Regions from separate parts of the Homo sapiens genome. Here region 1 is linked to region 2. Evidence: fine-mapped expression QTL. A gene starts in region 2. The other region holds a variant in brackets. All regions are shown on one strand. Distances are between the middles of the regions. Region 1 has its middle 80 kb from the start of ERVFC1. Region 2 holds the start of RPA4 (replication protein A4).

Evidence for each region. PIP is the estimated chance that this variant, and not a neighbour inherited with it, causes the effect. A credible set is the group of variants that fine-mapping cannot tell apart.
Region 1: its variant is the best candidate, but not a certain one, in a credible set for the expression of RPA4 in breast (GTEx, PIP 0.58).

What each region holds. Positions count from the first base shown.
Region 1 is chrX:97,756,161-97,767,067 of GRCh38, reverse strand. No RefSeq gene overlaps it. Among named protein-coding and RNA genes, the nearest start is that of ERVFC1, 80 kb to the left of the region's middle. The variant C/T (reference allele first, on the strand shown) is at 5,157.
Region 2 is chrX:96,878,399-96,889,305 of GRCh38, reverse strand. RPA4 (replication protein A4) reads right to left here and starts at 5,398. Exons shown (of 1, transcript NM_013347.4): 1 at 3,839-5,398. The coding sequence starts at 4,995. The coding sequence ends at 4,210. It overlaps DIAPH2 (diaphanous related formin 2), which reads right to left. Exons shown (of 27, transcript NM_006729.5): 5 at 7,588-7,727.

The DNA of each region.
Region 1 (10,907 bases), 880 kb before region 2:
CAGTTAATTTTTGTATGTTTAGTGGAGACGGGTTTTCATTAGGTTGGCCAGGTTGGTCTCGAACCCCTGACCTCAGGTGATCCACCAGCCTTGGCCTCCCAAAGTGCTGGGATTATAGGCATGAGTCACCATGTCTGGCGCCATTTGTCTTTTGCTCTTCTGTTGTCATGTAAATGCAAAGCTCTATTCATCTGCTTATCTTTCTCTATCTGATTCCAGAGGAAAATTCACACACCAAAAACCCTTCTTTGACTCTAATAATGGAGATGGGCAGGCACATGAGCCAAGGCTGAGTTAAGCTGCAAAAATAAATCTAGATTGAGAAGTTCAGAGACATTTTTTTCATCCTCTATCAGTCATGTAAAAGGAGTGACCAGTTAGATAAAGCAACCCTGCCTTATCTCAAGAGGACCTAACTAATTCCCCCTAAATCTTTTTAGTTCCAAGTCTGTGGGATTCCTTCTCATGACACAACTTCCCGCACTAACTTATTTAACCAACTTGAAGAGGATTAAGGGCTCAGTTGACACTTACGGAATGAAAAACATGTTCTGGCAGCTTTGAGCAGTACCCCTATGAGTTAGAATGTCAGATAAAGGAATCTGGGAGCTGTATCCCATTTCAAATTCAAACAGAAATCAGAGAGGCCTTAAAGATTCTATTTTAATTTGCAAATTGATATATATCAGAAGACAAGAAAGACAAACAGTCCTCATCAAGAAAGCATTTTTGCAAGTTTAATCCACAAGTTCACAGTTTCTTTGACCCTTATGAAATCGCCTTTGCAAAATTATGACTGAGACAGTGAAAGTGTTCTAACTTAACTGACTCCATCTTGCTTCTAGCCTCCAAGCTGGCCTTGTTCATTCCTGGGCGTAGTCTGAACTAACTTTGGGAGAAACTTAGTTTAAACAAAGACGGTAACAGCCCTTTCCCAAAGCAGACCTCCTTCCTGCCTGGGACTAGGTTGCCTTTGTAGGACTAACAGTAACCACAAGATTAGAAATGATGGTTTAGAAGTCATGCAGCTGGAGGCTACAAGATTCTGACCCTCCCTAAACTGCTCCTAAGATCACTGCTTGAGAAATTGTGCAGACCCTGCACTTGATGGATCAGCTGGCACCACCCAGATCAATGAACTGGCTCATCTGATCTTATGGCCCCACCCAGGAACTGACTCAGAGGCAAGAAGACAGCTCCGACTCCCTATGATTTCATCTCTGACCAATCAGCACTCCTGACTCACTGGCTTCCCCCCACCCACCAAGTTATCCTTAAAAACTCTGCTCCCCCAATACTCGGGGAGACTGATTTGAGTAATAATAAAACTCCGATCTCCCACACAGCTGGCTCTGCGTGAATTACTCTTTCTTGACTGCAATTCCCTTGTCTTGATGAATTGGCTCTGTCTAGGCAGCGGGCAAGGTGAACCCCTTGGGTGGTTACACTTATGGTGCTCAAGATTACTTTGCTTCTCCCAGAACACTATGTAATAAAAGGAAACCAATCAATGAAGAGAGACCTACCCTGCATGTGAAAAGATAGCTATGGGGAAATATAAAACAGTTTTATTTCATGGTTGAGTCTATCTAATATTTTTCCAATATTTTAAATTCAGTATTTTTACCCTGCTTAAAACAATACAGGAGAAAAACCCCTGTATTTTAACTTTGGAAAGTTTACAGGAACACTGATTTTGGCTTTGCTCTAGAAGAGATTTAGGGGTTAATTTATTTATTTGACAAGAGCGACAGTACAGAGTCAGATAATCCAGCTGTTATAATTTTGAAGTAAGCATAAATGTGATTTAGAAGCATATTCATGTTGCTGTGTACCTGCTGGTGAAAGACAGTAGTGAAATCCTCAGCAGAGGCACCAATTGCAGTAATCTTAATGAACTGGAGCCTGAAAACCATCAAGAAATAGCCACAACATCTGCAGTAAAGAGAGCAAGCAAGAGAGAAAACAATGATACACAGGAAAAATGTTAATATTGTTTATTCTTTGCAAGACATGCATCAGATACCTCCTCCAGCTTCCCTCCTTAAACATACAAATAAGCATGGGCACCTCTTTCGTCTACAGTGAATGTTGAAGAGAAACTTCAATCTCATTGACTAATTCTGCTGCTCCTTTAAATTGAATTTTTATACATATGGGTACACAAACCAATCTATATGCAGAACAATTCTTTGAACAGCATGCAAATGGTTTGGCATTACATGCTAGGTATCACACAAGTGAGTTTTCACAGTACAAAAGAATGAATTCCTTATTGTGGCACTTGAGATAACAATACTAAAGAATTTCAGCTCAACTTTAAATTGCTCCCTCCAACTGTTGTAGTTTTCTTAGTAGAAGTATTCTTAGTAGAAGTATAACATCCTTCTTAGTTTCTGCTTTCTTTTACCAAGTAATAATTGCTCATCTCTACTAAAGAATGGTACATCCATCCTTTCATTCATTGAGTCAGTCAACAAATATTTATTGAATAACTATTATATCTCTAGCACTATCTTAAACATGGCAAATAGATAAATATGGCCTGGTCCTCTAAAAATTACATTCTTCATAGGTGTGACAACTATATATAGAAACTATTCATATCAAAAAAGAGAAAGTGAAACACATCTCTAACTTGGGATTGTTTTCTTTCAATCCAACAAATCTCCTTTTTGTCACTGTAATATATTGACCTTGGGTTTTGGTTTATTTAGGTGTGTCCCTGAGAAATTCTTACCAGTCACCTTTCTTGAAAAGATATTATTACTAACCCAGAGCCTACCATTGTATGTAAGGCACTGATTACCAGGGTGGAGCAGGCAGAAATATAGAAGTGGTCTGAAGGAATCCCTTAGCAATGACGCATGAGGATGGAAAAAGTTAAGCCTCAAGGTTTCTAATGACATTTTTATTGGTACACAATGAAAGTTTCAGCTGCTGATTCTGCCCCAGCTCAGTTGCCCAGGGTTTTGCTGATAAGTGGAACCAATGAGGGAAAGAGGAGACAGGAAAGGAGAGAGACTCTTTAAATATTACAGTATTTTATTGCCTGAGCAGGTTTGATGCACAACCAGCATGCACTGGTATCTGATTGCTCAATATTTTAATATCACCCTGGGTCTAGGTACCAAATATAAAGTGCCTAGAGAATTTGAGTTTTAAAAACTAAGTCACCTCTGAGATTTCATCAGGGAGGAGATGCCTCCTGAGAGGAGTCTTTAAAGGATAAATAGGAGCTAGGCTTGCAAAGAGGGCTGAGGGCATTCCAGACAGAGAGGACATGCTCATAAATAAGAAACATCATGATGAGTGTGGGGGAAGGTACTAGCATCTCAGTGTAGATGAAGCATAGATTTTGAAATAGAGAGAGGTAGGAACTGAGCCCAGAAACAAATGCACACAGGGCAAAAATTATTGCTGATTTTATATGGCATACTGTGGAATTGGGACTTTATCCTAAGAACTATGGGGAGCCATTTAAAGGATTAAGCAAGGCAATTTGGAGGGGTGGGGGAAGTTCCTGTGGTTAAATTTGCATTTAAAAAGGTTACTCAGCCTGCAATGTAGAGAATAAATGAGACTGGGCAAAGGCAGAGAGTAAAGATAATTTTGTATACCTGAGGGTTGGAGTTATGCTGGACTGGTACAGCAGAAGGGAAAATTACATGATCTTTGAGAAGCCAGTAAGGGACAAAAAGTCTACAAGAACTGGAGCTGTTCAAGGTAGTGGATATCTCACTACAGTGAAGACTAGCTATAGTAGAATTGAGGAGAGTGAGTTGGAAAACTTGAGGTCATAACCAGAGAATGGATTCTTGGAGTTTAAGATTTCATAGGTGGTGAGGTTTCAAGAAATGAAACTGCCTTTGCAAAAATTATAACAATGAGAGAACTGTTGACAGTAAAAGAGATCTTTTACTGTCTAACCAACTCCATCTTGCCTTTAACCTCCAAACTGCCCTTGGTCACTCCTTGTCATGAGACTAGCTAACTTTAGGAGAAATGTAGTTTATAGTTTAAATGATAGTAGCCCTTCCCAAAGAGCTAACCTGCCTTTGTAAAACTAATGAAAGGCCACCAGGTTAGGAGAATGAGAGGGCCCTGGATTCTGATAAGATGTAGGCATAGTTAAACAATTACCAGCCATTATTCCAGAGGTCAGAAGATTTGCAGCTTCCCCAGTTACTCCTGTAAATAACATCACTATTGTAGAACAAAAAATTGGCCTTTTGAGATGTCTTTTCAGACTTTTGCATTTCTGGTAACTGGATGGTTCCACCCAGACCATTTTCCACACCACTATGATTGCATCCCCAATTGATCAGCAACACGCATTCCCTAGCCACCTGCCCACTGAACTATTTTTTAAAAACCCTAGGCTCTGAATATTCGGGGAAACGATTTGAGTAATAATAAAACTTTAGTCTCCCATTTAGCTGGCTCTATATGTATTAAACTCTTTATTGCAATTCCTCTCTCTTGATAAATCGACTCTATCTGAGCAGCTGGAAGGAAGAACCTGTTGGGCAGCTACGGTAATGAAAATGTCTACTACGTAGCCAGAAAAGTTGAATGCAAAGTTACAGGTTGAGGCAGACAAAGAGCAAGGCTGCAAGTGATTCGCGGTTCTGACTGTATTAGAATGATAATCTGTGGTGGTTTTAGACATTCCAGAAGCTAAGGCCCCCCCACCTTGAGAGATTCTGATGTAGTAGGCAAAACTCAGAAATACACACTTTGAAAAACTTTTACACGTTTCCAGTGCACACTGATTTGGAAACCCCTGAGGTTGGAAGGATTATCCGAACAAACCCCGAAGTCTCCAGATGACAGCAGAATTTGGGAAGAATAGAAATCAAAGTCTTCACTGAAAGTAAGATAGTGAGGAGAAAGTCAATACGTAAGGGAGCTGAAGAGAAACTGATGGTGGCATAGCTAGAGGGCAAGAACTTCAAAGGAGCAGGGGTTTTTGCGGGAGTGGAGGGTGAAGGATTTAACTTAGCATCAGCCAGCAAAGGATGAAGGTGTAAACCTCACCTCCCAACACTAACTTTCTTTAAATTGGTTTACACAGCACAAAGTTGTTGGCACATCTCCAGTTCACCACCGGCATTTCCAAATTTTGACTCCACTTTATTCTGTGAAGAAATGGC[C/T]TCAGGGATGTTCTCATATTCTGAAACCCTACTTTCCACTTTTCAGAGCTCATTCCCTTCTTAGATATTTCATTCCCTTTTAGGTGACCACAGCCTTTGCGGGGAATAAAATGAATCTTGTGAACTTGAATCCAGAAATTTTAATATATAGATTATATTCTATAAATGTCAGTAGCTCACTTCACTTACCTGGTTTTCAAGACATTTGTGTGAATGAGAATCAAGTGCTATTTGATCATGTAAATTAGATCATTTTCAGAAAAATGGAATACGATGGAATACATTATACAGCATTTGGACAAAAGAAAATTCCAAGTGACTGTCTCTAGTGGTAGTAGTAATATGAATAATGGTGAAGCCAAACAAAGAAAAAGCATCAAGTTTGTTCCTCTAGTGCATTTCATTCCTTCTCTTTTAAATTGTTTCAATTACAAAAGTAATGCAAGTTCCATGTAAAAGTATTAAATAATTCAGAGGTATCTAGAGTAAAAGTAAATGTTGTCTTTCTACAGTACCACAACCAACTTCCCTCTCCTCGTGTGCATTTCTTTCCAGAATGTCCCTATGCACTTATAAAATGCATGCATGTATGCATATGTGTGTTATGCATTTTTATACAACTTCTCTTTTGTTAGCAATATATCACGACACAAATATCCTTCCATGACAATACACATAGATCAAGCTCACTCTTTTTAGCATATCTATAGCATTTAATAATGCACAATATTTTTAAACAGTTGTCCCCTCTTTTGGGATGCTTGTTTCAAAGGACTTACTGGGACAGAAAGTCCTTCACCAAAGAGACATCTAAGCAATCCTTCAGTGTTCACCACACGTCTGTGTGGTTTTGTTTTCTTATATTTAGAATCTTTCATCCTTCTGGAATTTATTTTTATGTATGATATGAGATAGATAGGGGTTCTGATTTTCCTATTCAAATAGATAGCCAATTCTTCCTATTAAAAATAAGTCTTGCATAAACCTTCTCATGCACCTTTTTGTGTGCATGTGTTAATATTTCTGCAGCATATATTCCTAAAAGAAAAATTGCTAGATCAAAGAGCATACACATTTAAAATGTTGAGAAATTACTGCCCAAATGCCTTTCAAAATAACATTTACATTTCCACAAATATCTTGAGTACCCATTTCCCCCATCCTCTTGCCAATTGTGTATACTATCAACCTTTTTCATTTTACAAGTTAGCTTATTCTCTATGTTGACAATTCTCTCTTTGATTGCAAGAAAGGCTGAGAACATCTTTCCTACATTATTGGCAACATTTATTTTTTTTTTATTTTTTTTATTTTTTTGAGAAGGAGTCTCGCTCTGCCACCAGGCTGGAGTGCAGCGGCACGATCTCCGCTCACTGCAACCTCTGCCTCCCGGGTTCAAGCAATTGCCTCAGCCTCCTGAGTAGCTGGGACTACAGGTGTACACCGCCACGCCCGGCTAATTATTTTGTGTTTTTTTTGTTGGTTTTTTTTTTGTTTTTTTTTTTTTTTTGTATTTTAGTAGAGATGGGGTTTCACCATGTTGCCCAGTCTGGTCTCAAACTCCTGAGCTCAGGCAATCTGTCCACCTTGGCCTGCCAAAGTGCTAGGATTACAGGCATGAGCCACTGCGCCTGGCCACAACATCTCTTTTAAAAAATTTCTTGCTCATATATATTATCCTTTTTTGGGCAGACGGTGGCTTCTTATTTATTTGTAGGAGGTCTTTATATATTGCAGATATGAACTTTGTCTATTATTTATGTTAAAAAATATTTCCTCAAAAAATGCCTTTTAATTTTGCTTAGGATGTCTTTCATAATGCTGAAAGAAGCTTTTACTTTTCATTTTGTCAGATCTTTCCATTTCTTTCTTTATGGATTTTGGCTTTTATATTCTGTTTAAGAACACTTTCCCACACTCAAGATTATTTTAAAGATAGATATTCTTTGCCATTCAGAACATAGACATGGGCAAAGATTTCACGACAAAAACATCAAAAGTAATTGCAACAAAAGCAAAAATTGACAAATGGGATATAATTAAACTAAAGAGCTTCTTCACAGCAAAAGAAACTATCATCAGAGTGAGCAGACAACCTACAGAGTGGGAGAAAATTTTTGCAGTCTACCCATCAGACAAAGGTCTAATATCCAGAATCTACAAGAAACTTAAACAAATTTCCAAGAAAAAAAACAAACAACCCCATCAAAAAGTGGAAAAAGGACATGAAAAGACACTTCTCAAAAGAAGACAAGTATGTGGTCAACAAACACAAGAAAAAAAGCTCAACATCACTGATCATTAGAAATGCACACCAAAACCACAATAAGACACCACCTCACGCCAGTCAGAATGGTAATTATTAAAAAGTCAAGAAACAACAGATGCTGGTGAGGCTGTGGAGAAATAGGAACACTTTTACACTGTTGGTGGGAATGTAAATTTGTTCAACCATTGTGGAAGACAGTGTGATGATTCCTCTAGATCTAGAGATCTAGAACCAGAAATACCATTTGGCCCAGCAATTCCATTACTGGGTGTATACCCAAAGGAATATATATCATTCTAATATAAAGATACATGCACACATATATTCACTGCAGCACTATTCACAATAGCAAAGACATGGAATCAATCCAAATGTCCATCAGTGATAGACAGAATAAAGAAAATGTGGTGCATATACACCATGGAATACTATGCAGCCATAAAAATGAATGAGATTATGTCCTTTGCAGGGACATGGATGGAGCTGGAAGCCATGATCCTCAGCAAATGAACACAGGAACAGAAAACCAAACACTGCATGTTCTCACTTCTTATAAGTGGGAGCTGAACAATGAGAACACATGGACACAGGGAGGGGAACAACATACACTGGGGCCTGTCAGGGGGTACGGGGGGAGGAAGAGCACCAGGATAAATAGTTAATGTACGTGGGTCTTAATACCTAGGTGATGGGTTGATAGGTGCAGCAAATCACCATGGTACATGTTTACCTATGCAACAAACCTACACATCCTGCACATGTATCCCAGAACTTAAAATTAAATTAAATTAAATTTTTTAAAAAGATAGGTATTCTTTTACATTTTATTCTAACATGTTGTCACAGCTTGAGTTCCTCCGTATGCAGAATCTGAGACAAACTTTAGCCCTCTGGATTTTTATTAGCGTTCTTGGCATCAACACCTGTAAATTGAAGGAAAAGGAAACAATTAGTCAGAGGCAGAAGTTGAGCTGCCATGCTAAGCCAATGACAACCTCAGCCTACCTCATGGGCAGCTCTTTAATTGAACTGAGATGGCCATGCCTATATATTCCTGCATGTGATCAGTCATTGGATGTGGACTGCTCCCATGGGAAGGGGTGTGACCTTGGGAGAGGCAGCTTTCTGCAGCTGAGGCAATCACTGAAGGGGCCGGAATCTTCTGAAGACCATCTACTAACAGCATTCTCAGCAGCTGGGGCAGTAAGTCCTTCATCAAAGAGACATCTTAACAGTTCTTCGGTGTTCGCCACATATCTGTATGGTTTTGTAAGAAATATTTAGAATCTTTCATCCTTCTGGAATTTATTTCTATGTATGATATGAGGTAGGTGGGGGTTCTAATATTCCTATTTAAACAGATACCCAATAAACAGATACCCAATTCTGTTTTTATTTATTTATTTTTTTTTAGACAGAGTCTTGCTCTGTCACCCAGGCTGGGGTGCAGTGGCGCAATCTCAACTCCCTGCAACCTCGGCCTTCCAGGTTTAAGCGATTCTCCTGCCTCAGCCTCCCAAGTAGCTGGGATTACAGGCACGCACCACCCCATCTGGCTAATTTTTTGTGTTTTTAGTAGAGATGGGATTTCGCCATGTTGGCCAGGCTGGTCTCCAACTCCTGGCCTCAGGTGATCAGCCCTCCTCACCCTCCCAAAGTGCTGGGATTATAGGCATGAGCCACCGCACCTGGCCAGATACCCAATTCTTTTAACATTCACTTGGTAGTACATTGTTTCTCATTTCTTTTTAATATTTTCTTTTTGTTCAAAAAACAACCCTGTCAAACTACTCATTAATTTGAAATCTACTGGTTTGGTGTTTGTGATATCTCAGATACAATGTGGATATTTTCTATTAAGTCAACAGGAAAATATTTTTGTAAAAAACGGGAGAATTTATTAAATCAAGAGCTAAAGAAAAAAGTTTCTGTCACTGAATTTTTTTTATCATTAGAGTCATAAATAATCAAAATAGGAAGGGAACATAGTACAGATTTTCCAGTCTGCTCATTTTCCCAGATGAGAAAACTAAGACCTAAAGAGTGGTAGGGATAGATTAAGAACCAGAACATAAGGTTCATGATTTCCAGACCAGTGTCATTTTCTCTTTGCTAGGTTGGTTGCTTTTAATGTATCACTTTATGATATAAATTCGTGAAGCCTTTTAATACTTTCATTAAAATATTTACTTCTTTACATTCATTTATAATTTCGAATATGTCCTCTAGTTGAAAATCAGAAAATAACATTTTTTAAGTAATAATTTTTAATAGAGACTCTTTACAAAGCTAAACTGGCCTCTCCTCTCATCCTCCAATTATTTGGAATTAGTAACAAAAACTTTTGTATTGGCCCCACTGTCATAGAAACCACAGAGTCATTAGCAAGTACAAGGCATACAGACGATACTATATTGGCTTGTAAGGATAATTGGAACTTTACTGATAAAAATCAATTTTTATTGGCCCACTTACATGCCATAATAAGGCCACTGTGGCACTTCCTGCTCAAGGCACATAAGTGAGAGTTAGTGCGTATTTGATTTTAATAAATACTGTCTGTGGGAAGCCCGGACAGGAACGAACAGATGTTGGAACCATATGATAATAGTGTGGCAGTGTAAAAAAAACCTGTGCATTTATATGGCACACCTGGTGTTTATGATACTTTTGCAACTTTTATAACTACGGCATCTGGCCTTTTGCTGCTGTTCTTTAATTTTCAAATACCCAGGATCTTATGTCTCTTGCAGTGTAGACATGTCCATCAGGAAGAAAAAAAAGGCAGTAAACATGTCATGAATCTTGCAGAGAGAAACCACTGCCTCTCTACAAGGAACTTGCATTAAAGTCATTAGTGAAATTTAAAAATATGAGGAAACATTTAGATCAGCTTTTCTCAGCACTTCTTAACAGGCAAAGAGGATTTACTCAAGGATTCCTGGATAATCTATCTGCGCTACAAATTTTCCCAATATTTTAAATTTGCAATAAATAATTTATGGGGAATATCTGAAATAAATATAGCACCATAGGATCTGTGTTATGGCACTTGCATTCTATTTGATCCAAATGATGTAGGTTGAGGCAAATGGAGATAATATAATTTGATAACTAAAGTTTAACTAAATTTTGTGATTTTCTCTGAGCTTTAGGATGTGTTCATGTGTTAAAAGATATCAAATGTAAAATAGTTCATCTAAATTTTCAATTGTTCTAATGAGTAAGTCAGATTAATAGAGTAACACACCCAAAAGCTGATAAAAATCATTTGACACACACATATGACTTTACAGTACAGTTCATTTAGTAACTCTGTAACTCTTATGGGGTTTTCTGGACCAAAACTTAGAGGAAGCTTCAGAGTAGAGAATAAGGTCTAAAGTCATACTCTCTGAAGATGACCCCAATTTGGGCAAGTCACTTTTTTCAGAAAATACATCCTACTTGGATTTTGTAATGATGAACCTGCCAGAGTTTGT
Region 2 (10,907 bases):
GATATATATTCTTAAGATATTATATTGCAAAAACTACATGCATAGATTTAGAGAAAATGTAGAATTTCAGACGATCTTTTAAATCAATGAAAATATAGGCCCAAATGGTATTACGATATCATAAAAAAACTCCCAAGTTATTCAACTAAGTTCTCTACCACAGCAAAAAATAATGTTTTGTCTCTTAAGCTGATAGATGAGTACAAAGGTGTTTTTATATTATCTTCTACACATTTGCTGAAAGTTTTCATAGTTTCTTTTTCATTTAAATCAGACAAATATTAATGAAAGAAAGTCAAAATATTCAGTATGTGATGACAGTGAAAGAATACTAACAACAGTGAAAGAATACTATTTTAATAGACTTTCCTTATTGTGACACTGTACAAACCAGTTGTTAAAGGCCTAGGCTCTCGAGAGATACAAAGCCTGGGTTTAAATCTTAACACTGACACTTGCTGGGCATGCAACTTTAATATGGCGCAAATTACTTAACCTCTCTGAGCCTCAAGTTCATCTACAAAATACGAACAATACTGTTATCCTGATTGTATATGTACATTTAAAGGTCTTAAAACATTGCACAGGGGTAGTAAATGCCATATACATACTAATATATACACAGATATATATATATCTGTATATACATGGTAATATATATATAGATATATATATCTGTGTATATATATAGATATATATAGATATATATATCTGTATATATATAGATATATATATCTGTGTATATATATAGATATATATATCTGTATGTATATATATAGATATATGTATCTGTGTGTACATATATAGAGATATATATCTGTGTTATATATATATATAAAAAACACATATCACACATAATTTTTCATTATTTTTTAATGTATTAAAAATGCCTATATGTCATCCAATAAGACATTTGGAGATGGAGTCTCAATTTCAAAAGAGAGGTCTGGCCAGGTGGGTGGCTCACACTTGTAATCCCAGCACTCTGGGAGGCCGAGGCAGGCGGATCACGAGGTCAGGAGTTTGAGACCAGCCTGGCCAACATGGCGAAACCCCGTCTTTACTAAAAATATAAAAATTAGCCAGGCATGGTGGCGGGCACCTGTAATCCCAGCTAGTCAGGAGGCTGAGGCAGGAGAATCACTTGAACCTGGGAGGCAGAGGTTGCAGTGAGCCGAGATTGTGACATTGCACTCCAGCCTGGGCCACAAGAGCAAGACTCTGTCTCAAAAAAAAAAAGAGAGAGAGAAACAGAGAGGTCTGAGCTGAAAACGTAAATCTACGCATCACAGGGATCATACATACACATACACACACACACATACACACACACACATACACACACGCACAACACATACACACAACTCCTACTCTTAGAACAGTACTTGGGAGATAATAAATACTAAATAAATGTTAAAATGTTAACTATTACTATCTTTAATAAGCATTTCAGAAGTCAATAAAATTTAAGCTTATCAAAATTAAAGTTAACACTTAAATGCATATAGTAGGAACTCAATAAAGGTTTCAGGAACAAACATAATTCTTGCTAGTTACATTTTTTAAATTGCTGTTATAAAAAGTAAACAGAAATTGAAAAAATATAAGAACTTATGTTTTTCAGCTTCTACTCCAAATATTACTAAATTTAGTAGGTAAAAGTAACAAAATGATCACTAATAATTATGACCATAGTAAGATTATTATATTGGCCTTGAAAACACTTTCAAATATATTTATTCATAGTTAATTTAGAATCAACCTCAATATAAATACATACATTTCGTAAGCCTGTGAGCCATAGGAAAAAACCTTGGGTGGATTATAATCATCAATTATGTTTTTCAGGTTCCTCAGGCTTAAATGTCCCTGCCCAAAATAGTCAATAGTATGTCCCCAGGATTTGTATCTTATCCTCAAAAGGTGTGGCTAACTATCAGGGCAGGACCTTGGAGAAAGGGGATATTAGCCAAGTCATTCCCAGTCTAAACAAAATTGAAAAAGTATGCATGCCAGGTGGGTGTTCAAAATGAACTTTAAAAATCTGCTACCTTTAACATGGACTAAATATACATGTATAAAACAATCCAGTGATTTTCTGCCTAAAAGTGTTTTATTTCCACTGACATTATATCTAGACCTACTTACTATTTTTCCACTGCTATCTCTTACCTGCAGCAGAATCCACTAAAGCACACGATTCCATTCAGAAGAATAAGCGTTGGGAGGAGTAATTTTAAAAGCCTAAAAAAACCCCAACGAACACAGATAGAGGACATTTCCCCTCACAGGATGGGAGAGAGGTTGGTCTTCTGCCTTAAATTCAGGTGTACATATCTCAGTGTATCAGTTTGCAGGGACAAAAGCAGTTTGGCCTCCCAAACAAAAAAAAAAGAGTTTTTTTCCCCCTCCGCATGCTCCTAGTATAGGAAAAACAAGTGGCTACGCATCCACTGGCCAGCTGAATCAGCTCAAGCAATTATGGGAGTGACCTATAATTATACTCATAAATATCAGATTTTAATGTCACAAAAGAATATTGTATCTGCTAGACTCTTTCAGCTCCACAATTCCAAGTATATATGCCCCTTGTTGCCTCTCCCCCAGTATGATTTTCCCTAGGACAGGTAACCTTTTTCAACAAAAAGTGGTTCCGAATATTTTAGGTTTATGAAGACCAGAATTTTCAAAATGTCTGATAATTTAAGTAACAGGTTTATAGTATGTTATTCATCTGTGCTTTTCAAGAGTGCCATTTACAATTTCTTTACTTTCAAGGGGAAGAAAAATATGCATCACAAAGCTTAAGCAAGAATTAGTGGTTTTTCTAATGGCCACTGACACAGGCCATTTTCTGAAAGTTTTCCTGAAAGTACGGAGTACTGGCAATGTTCCATTTAAGAGATTTTTTTTTTGTTGCAGTTTTCATGATTCAATTTGACAAATAATGTTCTTCTATTTGTATATTATATATGAATATACATATATAAAATATAACATATATTCATTAAAAAGTATATGTTTTTTATTTCCTCTAATGTAAAAAAATTAGCATCTTGAAAGACACCATCTTTAGTGTATAGGTAACTGAGGGCTTTCGTTAATGGTCAATTATTTAAAAGTCTCACATAATTTATATAATCTACACTAAAATGTATTGTTAGAACTAGGCTATAGCATATGTTCTGGGTATTTTATATATAGAAAAGAAAAAATTCTGGATAAGTGAAACTATTAATCCTCAAGGATATAAAACAAAAAGGCTTTTTCAAATGTACTTAGAAAAAAAAATCACACAGGAAAGTTAAGATTTTGTAAACTACTTTAATAAAACATTTGAATAAATTTGTGTTAAACTCAGTAAGTTTCATATTCCTATGAGCTGTTTCCCTAACGTCCTAAAAATTACCTTTTTATACATAAAACAGAGCATTTAGTAAAATAAATAATACACCAGCACATCAAACTTACAGAAACTCTGGCATCCATTTACCATACAACTACAATAAATTGTAATTTCATCCAAATACCACATCATATATGAAATAATCATTGAACTTCACCACATTTTAAAAAATTTCAAAGATAACCTGGCAAAAATGGTTTATTTAAACACAGTATAATCTTATTTTAAGAAAACATAAATTCATAGTAATAAGAGCAAATCACACATAAATGTTTGAACTGAGCATTAGAATTCACAAATTAGTATCTTCAGCTCATTTGAATTAATCAAATACTAAATACTATATTGAGCAAGAGATAACAGTATCATTATAATAAGCTAAATCCAAACACGGAAAATAAGTCTAACATAAAAACAAGCAAGACTTTTTTTTTTTTTTTTTTTTTTTTTGTCTTTTCGCTGGCTCCCTGACTGCAACTAGTTTTTCTTTTGGAAAAAGAAGCTCCAACACAATTAAATAATAAATTTCTACATTTTCTGTAGTTTTTCTTCCCCGAAAATCATGTTTCCATTAGCTTGCTAGTAAATCCTACAGAGTTGTCAATTTATCCATCACCGTCTCTCTCTGAGCTTCAAATACAGAAAATCCGAAAAGTTCAAAGCAGTTAGAAAAGCAGCGAGTTGACAAAGAATGCCACTTGAGATTTTTTTTTTTAGTCCTACTTCCTAAAAAGTCAACAGGTCAAAATTACTCACAGCTGGATGCAAGGGTCTTCGAAAAATGAAAGGATGTTTTCCCTGCCTCAATCAGCAGACTTAAAATGCTCCCGATCCACAGTGGGATAGATGTGGCCCTCAACGGTCAGATAATCAATCGCTTCCTTGATGGCCTTGACGCTAAGGTCGCAGAGCTGAGCCCGGAGCTCATGGATGCTCTTCCCTTCCTGATGAGGACACTCATGAATCAAACGCAGCACTTCGTCCTGGATGAAATTGCGGTGACTCTCATCGTTATCCCCAGCATCATTCACTTCTGATGGAGACACAGGCACACTTTCTACAGTGGTATCACGACGGGCTTTATCCAGCATCATGTGTGCATTGACCGTTTCCAGAATATGCACGGTGAACTCGTTCATGTCCTCTAGGACATGAATTTTCAATACCTCAAGGCTCTTTGTTCCCGTGGGACATTTGAGGATACCAAACACTTTGACATATACTCCGACTGACAATGGAGTCACCTGCTTGACTTTCTCTCTACCAAACCACTGTCGGGCCTCGATTGGTTTCGCGGTCATATCATCAATTTTGTAACAAATGTGATTTGAAGCCTTCTCTGCCCCTCTGATTACCCCCACGATGGAGACCTGGGAAACTATAATTCCCCTAACCTTGAACACAGGGTCAAACACAGTAGAGCTGAGAAGCTGGTTCACATTACACGGTACAACGTCCTGAATTCGGACCTTAGGTCTTTGGGTCTTAATAGCAGGAGTTGCATCTCTCTCACACAGTTGGTCACTGCCTCCACTCGCTCCATCAGCAGCAGAAATGCTGCCATAGCTCCCAAACCCACTCTTACTCATCTTCAAGACAGCTCAGGCTGAGGAGAAGGTGGGCTTTGGCTCGTCTGGGGCTCCACGGACGGCTTTGAGTTCTCCACAGAAGGCTTCGAGCTCTCCACAGAAGGCTTCGAGCTGTCCGAAAGGCTACGATTGAATGCTGGGAGGCTGAGGACGTGACAAGCGTCACGCTACCTGTGGACCAATCAACTACCAGAATGCATCTGCTTCCAGCCAGTCAGGGTCGGCCACCTTCTCACCTGATCGCATAATCCTTCCCTGTGTGTCAGTGGTTGCTACATTCTAAAAGTCCCACACGAGGGGAGCCCTGTTGCTTAGCTGGTCAAAGCGCCTATCTATTAAAAGTCCCACGTGTAATTTCAAGCAAGCCTTTCCCAACATCTCTATAAAAATGCATTTTTACTAGCCCCCCTCTTTATTTCTTAATGCTGCAACTTCTACAATTACTTTTAAAAGACTCATTTATTCATTCATTCAAACAACAATGCAACAGAAATTTTAGGAGCACAAAGTGCTTGGCAAAACGGTAGAGTGCTGTACGTTACGTGCAGGGGGGAAAAATGCACCACCGTAGTTACTGTTCTCAAGAACTCACGTCCCCTGTTCATTCAAACCATTAAAACTAGGAGCATCAGGCCGGGCGCAGTGGCTCACGCCTGTAATCCCAGAACTTTGGGAGGCTGAGGCAGGTTGATTACTTGAGGTCAGGAGTTCGAGACTAGCCTGCCAACGTGGTGAAATCCCGTCTCTACTAAAAATACTAAAATTAGCCAGGCGTGGTGGTGCAGGCTTGTAATCCCAGCTACTCGGGAGGCTGAGGCAGGAGAATCGCTTGAACCCAGGAGGCAGAGGTTGCAGTGAACCGAGACAGCACCACTGCACTCCAGCCTCGGTGACAAGAACAAAACTCCGTCTCAAAAAAAAAAACAAAAAACAAAAAACAAAAAACCTAGGAGCATTTTGGAAGAAATGGCAAGACAATCGTCTTTCAACGATTATCATACTCTAAGATAAGTCACATCTTAACACTGGCTTTTAAAAAATTTTTTGTTGTTTTAAAATTGTAATTTTCTGGGCATTTTGCCAAGTGCACTATAAATAAGTAATTAATATATTTCAATTTATACATAAATCCAAACTGAATGACTGAGCTCTAAATTATTTTCAAGGCTCTGTGGACAGGACAGAAAAGTACAAGACTTAGACCTATTATATATTAGGAAAAACATGGATAAAATCACAGTAAGTTTTTTATATACTCTTATGGAGTAAATTCTGAACTTAAGATTCTAGTAGTTACATAAATAGATCCCGGATTTTTGTTTTTTTGTTTTTTTTTTTTTTTTTTTTTTTTGGAGACAGGGTCTCGCTCTGTCTCCCAGGTTGGAGTGCAGTGGCGGGATATGGGCTCACTGCAACCTCCACCTCCCGGGCTGAGGTGATCCTCCCACCTCAGCCTCGTGAATACCTGGGACCACAGGCGCACATCACCACACCTGGCTGACTTTTTTGTATTTTTGGTAGAGACGGGGTTTCACCATGTTGGCCAGGCTGGTCTCGAACTCCTGGACTCAAGCGATCCACTTGCCTCAGCCCCCTGAAGTGCAGGGATTATAGGTGTGAGCCCCCACGCCCGGCCAAGAATGTTTTGATATTTTATTGAAATTTTATTTTTCTTTATAAAACATTTTATTTTGGGTGTTATTGATTTAAAGGCTTAATAAAGGAACCACAGTTACTGGAATCCACCATTGGCAAGTAACCTAATAACAATCCTTTGTAGTTAGTTAATAGCCTAAATTAGTAGAGTTTTGAGAAGTTTATTAATGCTCTCACTTCTTTTACTGGTTAAAATAATTCACTTTTTGCTATCTCAAAATTACAGAAATATGTGAAGAGTATATCTAAAACTTATAGAAGAACATAAAGTTATATATACCTTTCAAGTTTTAAAAGAATAAAATCGGCCGGGCGCGGTGGCTCACACCTGTAATCCCAGCACTTTAGAAGACCAAGGCAGGTGGATCACGAGATCAAGAGTTCGAGACCAGCCTGGCCAATATGGTGAAACCCCTTCCCTACTAAAAATACAAACATCAGCCAGGCATGATGGTGCGTGCCTGTAGTCCCAGCTACTCAGGAGGCTGAGGTAGAAGAATTGCTTGAACCTGGGAGGCAGAGGTTGCAGTGAGCCAAGATCGTGCCACTGCACTCCAGCCTGGGCAACAGAGCAAGACTCTGTCTCACAAAAAAAAAAAAGAATAAAATCATGGAGCAAATATACTTAATTTGCTTTATAAATAAATATATAATAATTATCTGATCCCACAAATAGATTTCCATGTAAATGTGGATATTTAACTTCTGGCTCTATGTTAACATTTGTATTCTTAAAATTGTACATTACTAGAGATCCAACTAACTAAATATATTTTTAAAAGTTTACGACTTCACAATCAGATGCTGCTGTTTTATTAACATCAGATTTTTAGTCAGGAAATCTTGAGGTTTAAATAACAAAACTTATTATATTCCCAAACAATTATATGCACTACAAATTGTATGAATCATACCGAAATGATAAGAACGACTTACCTGACCGGATTGCTGGTTAAAGAAACCCTGAGGGATTCTAGGCAATTAAGAAGTTTCTCATCTGATATACCCGATCGTAATTCATGAACATATTCTTGTGAAGACAGGGTGCATTCATGTTTGCTGTTTTTCAGCCCACCCTATAAAATAAACAAAGAGACCATTTTAGACAATGTTTCAAAAAAAATTTAAGTAAAATAATGCATAGAATATTTATTTTGTTATATAAAAATGTGTGCAGAGTGCTACACACTTAAAAATTCTTGATCACAGAATTGATATAGTAAAATTGTGTTGTATATATCTCAACATTTTCCTCAACCTCATTTAAAAAAAAAATTACAGTGCTGGTGCTCATGACCTGAATAGAATATGAACTTGAATTACATAAAGTGTCATTGACAGGGGTGCTTAAATTTACAATTCAGGCATTAGAATTAATATTAGCTAGTCCTCCTTAACCCAGAGGATAAGCATTCAAAAATCATCTTATTAATTTTCCTAGTTAAGATATGTATATTCAATTCCACAAAATCCAGCAAATAAAATTTAATATATACCATTATACATAACCCAAATCTATTGAAAGATATCAGAGTATCAGCCTTTCTAAAAAAAATAAGTGAAAACAGTTATTAAAATGTAAAACAATATAGTCTCCAATTAGCATGTTAATTAATCAAATCAGTTGAAAGCATTCACCAGTTCCCAATTATTCCTTTCTGGTACTCTCAGGTTGTAGATTAATCTTAAAAAGTCATTAAATACATTTATCTGATAGTGACTAGTTTTTAACTTAACTTTCAATATAGATGGAGTTGTTTCTAGAACTCATCTCATCACAGCTCCTTAACTTCATCATCTTGCTATAACTATATAAGTAGTTCAGGGAAAAGGCTGGGAGGAAAATATTGTCAACACATTCACTATACTAACAACTGATAGTTTCACATTCTAGACGTACCTAATCATAATTGCCCCTTTCCTATACTGTAAATGTATATCCCTGAATTAAGACTCCAAGCTTGAGTCCCATTTTACAGGTTCATAAAAATTACACTCAGTTTCTGCTAAGCATCTAAGGATACTTACTATAAAATAACATCATAAGGATATACTATCATAGGAAATATAATATTATAAGGAGATCATAAGGAAAGGAATTTTTCCCCATTGGGTAGAGGTATTATCATTAGAGGATATGACATTTAAAAAAATGTTAATAATGAGAAATGAGTTCCCTATGATTTCACACTATTTGGGTTTTTATTGAGAATGCCTCCTCAATGTAGAAAGTGTTAATCATTCTTAATTTCTGAATTTCAAAAATCCCATTAGATGCTAAATTTTTAAAGTCTGATAAAGGCTTATAACATATAGGGGAACTCTATTCCCTTAGCGCTGTGGCAATATTATAATTATTATAGCACTTAAAATATTGTGGTAGAGGTCATTATTTGTGTCTGTCTCACTTCTACATTGGGAACTCCATCTATGCCACATAACTAACACCGGTCATGAATTTAGTGAGCTTCAATAAAAGTGTGTTATTATTGAACTTCTCCATAATAACTGCAGAACAAGGAATACGATTTCATACTTTGAGCTCCCATATTTTGTATAATGGCCACTGACTTGGTATTTCTTGCTTCGTTATGAGACACAGTAGACGTTAAAAATATACTGGATGGGCCGGGGACGGTGGCTCATGCCTGGAATCCCAGCACTTTGGGAGGCTGAGGCGGGTGGAACACTTGAGGTCAGGGGTTCGAAATCAGCCTGGCCAATGTGGTGAAACTCCATCTCTACTAAAAATACAAAAATTAGCTGGCATGGAGGCACATGCCTGTAATCCCAGCAACTCGTGAGGCTAAGACACGAGAATAGCTTGAACCCGGGAGGTGGAGGTTGCAGTGAGCTGAGATCCCGCCACAGCACTCCAGCCTGAGCCACAGAGCAAGACTCCGTCTCCTCCACAAATAAAAAAGTATACTGGATGAATCATCATCACCTAAATGGCACAGTAAGTAAAACCATCACCGAGAGATCATGTCCATATTCCTGTAACTTCCTTATCCATCTATTATTTCACAAGGAATAATAGCAAGTAAATATTTAAAGCATAATTTTGCAAATTCAAAATTATAGTTTTATTTTTGCTCGGCCAACTCACTTTCTACAACAACACAAAGTTCATCAGTAACAAGGGATCTATTTACTACATGTGCCAGTCTGAAAACTACTAGTAAAACGAATTAAAATTTTCAAGTCTGTAGTCACATACCGCTTTCATATAATCCTCAAAGTTATTTCTAAATTAATATATAAAAAGGCACCACTAATCTTCCCCTAGAGGATTGTATATGGAATTTAACCCTGTTGCGTGACCTTTGTATTTTGCAGTTTTCTCTGCCTTGAAGACCCTTATCCCAACCTCTCCATTGCTGGCTCCCATCATTTTAATCTCAGCTCCATAGTCTTCTCCCCACCCCACATTCTAGTTATCATCGCAACACCATTTTAAATATCATTTACAGTATTACCTCTATGAAAATTTATTTTTGTAATTTAGTTGTTTACTGTCTTCTGCGCTAAAACATAAGCTCTTATGACAGGATTCTTGCCTGCCTTGTTCACCACTATATCCTCAGATCTTAAGACAGTGCTTAAGTAAGCATTCAATACATATTTCCTGAATGAATGAATGGATGGATGGTTGGGTGGATGGATGGATAGAGAATAAACAAAAGGGTAGATGAGTGATGAGTTTCAACATGCTGAAGATTCTAAGCTTAGTTTTGCTTCAGAATATTATAGTTCTGAGACTTTCAGTTGTAATATATTCAGAGATGCTGAATATAGAACAGGTAAACTGAGACACTGTATGGTATGCTGAGGACAGCTCAGAGGTATTTTATATTGGGCATCTCATGGACACAGAATAATCTACTGAGAAAATGTTGGTTCCCTTTTTCTAATTGATTCCCTACAGGATTAGTCTAATTGGGACATATGGTTATGGCCGAGGTACTCCTTGTGGACAAGTGAGCCAGCCCATCACTTTGTGGCTCACTCCCCACCCAAGTCTTAGAAACAAGCTTAAATTATAAAATTTAGGATCCTCTCTGGTTATAAGGAATGGAAGCAAACAATCTACTAGAGCATGACAGAGAATATATAACTTTATAGAACAGATGCTTTTTACCAAGCTTAGAAGGACTTTGAGATTTTAACATAAGTTCATATTTGAAAATTATGAAAATATGATAGCAAGCTAAGGCTGGACTGGCCCTTAAAGATCAGTTCTTCTAATATCCTCA